Regions from separate parts of the Homo sapiens genome. Here region 2 is reported to be linked to region 1. Evidence: microRNA targets listed by miRTarBase, many of them from high-throughput screens and not tested one by one. Region 1 holds a microRNA gene; the other region holds the end of a gene's coding sequence.
What was found. Region 1 holds the annotated microRNA hsa-miR-6845-3p (CCUCUCCUCCCUGUGCCCCAG, at 1,554-1,574, shown strand). A microRNA usually pairs through its seed, bases 2 to 8, with sites in the 3' UTR of a target mRNA and lowers its output. Matches are read on the target gene's strand: a 7mer-m8 pairs with bases 2 to 8, a 7mer-A1 pairs with bases 2 to 7 and ends in A, and an 8mer does both.

Region 1 (3,200 bases):
ATCAAGATCGGCTCCGGTGCTGGCGGGGCAGGGCTGGGTGGGGGAACGGGGCAGGGGAAGGTGCCTGGAGCCAAGGGCAGAGGAGTTCTGATGCCCCAGCAGCTAACTCCACTCTTTCTCCCGCCCCTTGGCAGTGTGGCACCGAATCTTCTCCAATGGTAAGTGCGGACTTTGGGGGGACGGGGTCCTGGAGAGGTCCCCGCCCGCTCAGCTCTGCGCCCTCCCACAGCACTTCCAGATGATCTCCGAAGCCCCATCCGCGCTGAGCGAGAGGAACTTCGGAACCTGCACTTCTTCCCCCCAGAGTATGGAGGTGAGTGGTGCTGGGTCCGGGTGCCCCGTGCCTACCCTGCGCTTCTCTCCTACGTGTCCTGTGCTCTCTTCTGTTCAGAGGTGGCCGATGGGACCGCTGTGGACATCTTCTCCTTTGGGATGTGTGCGCTGGAGGTACTGCCCCCGCCCTCCACCTTGTGCTCTGCCCTCCTCCTAACTGTGCCCTGCCTGGCTCACCTGTGTGGTCCCTTCCCCATGCCTGACCTGGCTCTGTGCCCCAGATGGCTGTACTGGAAATCCAGACCAATGGGGACACCCGGGTCACAGAGGAGGCCATTGCTCGCGCCAGGCACTCGCTGAGTGACCCCAACATGCGGGTAAGCAGCTTGCCCTGCCCCTCCCCAGCTGGCTCACCGTGCTCAGCTAGGGCTAGCAAGGTGCTCCAGGCAGACCTGGGAGAACATCACAGTTTGTGCAGTTGAGGGGTATACCAGCTGACTGCACCCCTCCCAAAGAGGACCTCAGTGGGAGCACATACTGGTTCCAGGCCTGAAGGCCCTAAGGGGTCAGCACATTCTAAGGACAAGAAGGCAAGAGAGACCCTCCCTCTGTGGCTGCCATCACCATGCCCGTTTTATAAAGAAACCAAGGTTCAGAGGAGATGAGTCCTTTGCCCAAGGCTTTAGAGTGAGTGGTGGAGCCAACATCTGCACCTGGGTCTGCTTCACTCCAAGTCCTTGACTTTAAGCTTCCAGGAGGTGATGAGGCTCCAGCTTGTGGGGGGACATGGTGGGTGCCAAGCAGGCAAAAAGAGGTATGGGATGGAAGCTGCATCCACAGCCCCCTCTGCTCGGAGTCTAGACTTAACTCCATGGCCTCAGGAGATGGGGGTGCCTGGTCGGGGCTGGTGGCGAGCTGGAGCCGGGCTGGGCACGGATGTGGACAGAGTGGGGACCCATCAAGGTCGTCTCCAGTGTTGGGCCCGAGCTGAGCCGATCAAAAGGCCATGGGTAGGAGGCTTGCAGGTGTGACTTTAGGATCATGGCTTCTCCCCACGATTTTTTGGGGGTCGAGGGAAGCAGAGCATGGTGCTCCAATCCCAGAACCCAGCTGTCCTCAAGCTCAGAGGACCAGGTCCTGGCCTGGCTGCTGCTGCTGGGACTCCTCCCTATGGGCATCCCTGCATGTCCTGTGTGTCCCTGAGGAGGGACATGGGGAACTCAGGGGCCACCTCTCCTCGAACTGCGGGGCCAGAGCAGAGAGCCCTTGCACACCACCAGCCTCTCCTCCCTGTGCCCCAGGAGTTCATCCTTTGCTGCCTGGCCCGGGACCCTGCCCGCCGGCCCTCTGCCCACAGCCTCCTCTTCCACCGCGTGCTCTTCGAGGTGCACTCGCTGAAGCTCCTGGCAGCCCACTGCTTCATCCAGCACCAGTGTGAGCAGCAGGCCGGCCCGGGGGGTGGCTGGGGAGGTGGAGGTTGGGACGTGGAAGGGGCCCTGCAGGACCCACGGCCTGAGCACACCGCCTTGATGCTCTTGTGGCCGCAGACCTCATGCCTGAGAATGTGGTGGAGGAGAAGACCAAGGCCATGGACCTGCACGCGGTCTTGGCGGAGCTTCCCCGGCCCCGCAGGCCCCCGCTGCAGTGGCGGTGAGCAGTCAGCACCCAGAAGCCTCCCCTCCCCACACCTCCCCTCCCCGCACCTCCCCTCCCCTCGCCCCGGCCAGCCCCTCATGTGCCTCCCACTTCCATGCCAGGTACTCGGAAGTCTCCTTCATGGAGCTGGACAAATTCCTGGAGGATGTCAGGTGAGAACTGATGTAAGGTTGGGGGCCAGGCAGCTGTCAGGCCTGAACCCCCAGCCACCCTGTTGTGTCCCCAGGAATGGAATCTACCCACTGATGAACTTTGCAGCCACTCGACCCCTGGGGCTGCCCCGTGTGCTGGCCCCACCCCCGGAGGAGGTCCAAAAGGCCAAGACCCCGACGCCAGAGCCCTTTGACTCTGAGACCAGAAAGGTGAGTCCCCTCTCCTGCTGCTCAGTGCCATCCCTCAGACCTTCTAACAGCCAGATAAGAGGTGCCCCTCCTTCTCTTAGGGCCTGCATCCCCACAGCCCAGCTCTCCTCCTGGCTGCCAGAGACCAGATCCAGGCTGACCCCCTTGTGGGGGTCATGGGGGTTATAGGACAGGCTGGGCACTCTCCTTTTCCGGGAGGCTCCCTGTCCCCTCAGATCCTTCCCCTGCATCCTGCTGCCTGCCCTGAACCTACTCCAAGCATCCTTCCTCCAGAACTCACCCGGGCTCTTCCACCCTGCCAGCAATCTTCCCCCACCCCCGCACCCCTCCCACCCCCCCCACCCCTCCCATCCCCCACCTGGTGCTGATTCCCGGACATCTATGTCCTGGTGTCTCCCCAGACTTTTCCTGCAGCACCCCCTCCTGGCCAGGGGCCTCTCTCGGTGCAGTGCAGCCAGAATTCATGTCCTAACAGGCAAACTGCCTGCTCCTGGCTGCCAGCAGAGATCATGGGAGTCCTCAGCTGACACCCAGGCTCTGGGAGGCCTGATCCCGCAGGCACCGTGCACTTCGGCGCGGTCCTGTCCCGCCCAACCTCCCTTTCCCCACGCCCACAGTTCCCTCTTTGTTCAAGTTGTTCTCTCCGCGGTGAAAGCTCCTATTCAGCCTTCAGTACCCAGCCCCTAATGTCGACTCTTCTCGAAGCTTTCCTTAGCTTGCCAAGCCACTAGCAGTGAGATGGGCTCCTCTTAGAGATTCCCCCCTTTCCAGTCTTTGCTGTCCCTTCCCGGCCCCTTTGGGGCCGCGGCATGTGGTCTTGCTGCTGGGTTTGTGAGTCCCAGCCTTCCCCCGCTGCAGGTCATCCAGATGCAGTGCAACCTGGAGAGAAGCGAGGACAAGGCGCGCTGG
Region 2 (3,000 bases), not on the chromosome of region 1:
CAAATCACCAATTCTTGGTTCAAAACTGACATCTGTTATGAAAATTACCATATCACATATTTGTAAGATGACAAGGAGTAACTCATCTTCAAAGTGCAAGTAAGTCTATTTACAACCACAAAAAAGGCAATGATGAGGAGAAAAGGATTTTTAAAAAATATACAAAGATTAAAAACATTTGGGATGCAAAATTAAACAATTTTTTGGTTAGAGGATAAAAGAGAAAAAGTGATTGAATTACAGATTTCAGCTATACATACTATATAATGGGATCCAAGATCTTTAACAGCTTGCTTGCATTTTTTTCTACCTACATAATGCTCTGGAAATTTCTGGTAGAAATTACAGTGTCTCAAAGAGAGAAATACACACTAAGCATGTCTTGCTACTACTTCATAGATGTCATAAGACCCGTTTATGGATTAGAGTTGGTGTAGAAAGCCATTGCCTTGAGTTGAAAAATGAATACTGTAAAAGCTCAATACAAATCCTCCAAAGCACATGCACTTCTAAATCTTTTGGTAATTACATTCATATTTAAGCATAACCAAAATAAAAAAGAAAACTGAAAACATTTCCCTTTTCTCTATTCCCTATGCCTTGTGGGCTCTCCAGTTGATAGGGTCAATTTTTAGAGTTGAAAGGGTTCTTCAAGATAGTCCACCACCCTTATTTAGGGTAAATGATTTTCCCAAGATCATGCAGCACATTAATGGCAAAACCAAGACTAGAAACCAGGTCTTGACTCCTAGTCTAATATGCTTTCCAGCATATCATGCTACCTCTTTTTTACAGTATGATTCACTATAAATACCTGATGAATAAATGTACAATTACAAATGCTGACAGAGCCAATGTGTTTCTAAGACCTGCAGAGGATTACTGCAAAGATTTGATGGTGAGAAAAAGATTTCCCCCACCCACCAAAAATATCAAGCACCATCAACTAAATGTTTCTTTGCTTGGTCAGCACTCTCAGTTATAGTAGCAGTCCTCGTAAACTTTATGTCAGCCTGAGGATTGTGTATCTGGTGAAATCTGGGCCCTAACACATGCCAGTTTCTAAAGGGTAAAGACAGAGGCAAAAAAGAGAAGAAGGTAGATGAAGGAAAGAAAAAGAGAGCTAAAGAATCCAATTGGCTTAGAGGTGGGCATTCTAGCATATGGTTAATTATTGCATCTAAATATATCATTTTAGAACCTTTTCATGTAATCTCATTTTACCTAATCTGTTATTTGGCCACTTAAGAATTAAAATAAATGTATCAAAGACAATGGTGGTCATTGTTGTTATGTTTTTTACCTGTGAGACTATTTTAGACAAACTAAATTCAATGAAGAGTATGTCAAATGGTAAAATTGTGTTAATTTTCTTAATCTGATTCTATTAGATTACCAGCAAGGAATTAAAGCGGTACTTCATGGGGCTGTTACCATCTTGAAATGTATTCCAATTGTGGTCAAAGAGAACAGACTGATGCACTGTATATGCAGAACTGAGTAAAGAAGCTGAAATGTCTTTTAAAAAAACATTGCCATGAATTTATTTAATAAAAGGGCATATTTATTTATGTTTACAAACAAGTTTCAAAAACAAAAGGAAAACATGTATGCTTCTACTTATTAACCTTTTTCAAAATGCCAACAGCCCTCATGCTGTGTGAAGGTCTCTAAAGATTAGAAAAATCAATACAGTTCACTCACAGTTCACCAAGACATCACTAAACTAACATGTTTAGACAAAAACAAAAAAGACTAAGGTTCTCTTGTAGTTTGATAGTCTGATTTAATTTGATTTGCCTGAAATAACAAAAGCATTTCAAGCATCTTTCATTATGTAGTTGATGTCCTGCATTAAACAATCTACTAAATTCTGAACAAAAGGTTATTAGCAAGTTTTCAAAAATTTTAAAAATTAAACAGTTGCTTCAAAACCATTAAGTAGTAAATGTATTTAAGAAACTAATTAGGACAGATGTCATAACTTCATTAGAACACCACTGCTCATGTTTTTTTGTTTTGTTTTGTTTTTTTCGTTTTTTTAAACAAAGCATTAGTGTTATCTATTTGGCTATTAGTATTAGCAATTTATCTACAATATTTAACAAGGTAAATTGTAGGCAAAAATTTAGTACAGTTTCAATAGAAACACCCCTTTTTTTTTTTTTCCTGAAAATACAGCAGTATTTGAAGGACTAATTTTTCTCTGCATCAGTTATAAGGAAGCTTCCCATCTATGAACAGGAACAAAAAAAGTATCTACAAACCTTGTAAACAGATCTGTATCATTTATAAACATAAATAATCCAAATTATTAACAGCCAACAGCAGAAATTAAACTATCAATTCAACGATCCAGGGCTCTTTGTCTTGCCCAGTTTTACTCCTCCCTCTCTCTCCCATCCAGGACTGAGATAAACTAAAGCTCTGCTAATACACTGTTCAGGACCATGCTTGGGTACTACTGATGATCCACAGGTCACTTACGCTGAGTTACTGTTTATCTGTCAGTTCATTTCTCCCACCCCCCAAAAAGCACCCTCAGTCTGGCAGAAAGCTTTGCTTTTTTTTTTTTAAAAAAATAAATCTACATTCGTACAAGTGTGTCTTCTGTTGAAGTCCAAAGACAAGAATACTAGCTTGTCCATCACAATATGTGAAAAGACCCAGTTTCAATTTGTTTCTTTACAATGCAGCTAGTGTGTTAACATTCAGCTTACAATCAGAGTGATGTTTCCAAACTATGTAGTGGGCTTCCTGGGGATGAAGAGGTAGCAGACTTGTTCATTTCTATTGTAAGGTGAATTCCACTGTCAACAGCATTGTTATTTTTGTTGGGAGAGGGTGGAGGACTGGAGTTACGTTTTGTAGGAGCATCATCTTCGGCATCAGTGTCATCAATAAGGGGGATATGAGGCTCTGAATCTTCTATCCTAAACTCAGGATGTGTCATAAAGTTGTGAATCGAACTTCTTGATTCCGGTTTTTCTAACCCTTCAT

Region 2: miRTarBase lists ATP2B1 as a target of hsa-miR-6845-3p. Seed matches in the 3' UTR shown: 7mer-A1 at 2,394-2,400.

What each region holds. Positions count from the first base shown.
Region 1 is chr8:143,836,130-143,839,329 of GRCh38, reverse strand. It overlaps MIR6845 (microRNA 6845), which reads left to right and starts at 1,514; the gene lies at 1,514-1,574. NRBP2 (nuclear receptor binding protein 2) reads left to right here. Exons shown (of 18, transcript NM_178564.4): 6 at 1-16; 7 at 135-158; 8 at 230-313; 9 at 392-447; 10 at 555-650; 11 at 1,575-1,707; 12 at 1,821-1,923; 13 at 2,031-2,081; 14 at 2,156-2,291; 15 at 3,150-3,200. RefSeq lists an enhancer at 1,782-2,509.
Region 2 is chr12:89,588,262-89,591,261 of GRCh38, forward strand. It overlaps ATP2B1 (ATPase plasma membrane Ca2+ transporting 1), which reads right to left. Exons shown (of 21, transcript NM_001366521.1): 21 at 1-3,000. The coding sequence ends at 2,723. Among named protein-coding and RNA genes, the nearest start is that of POC1B-GALNT4, 64 kb to the left of the region's middle.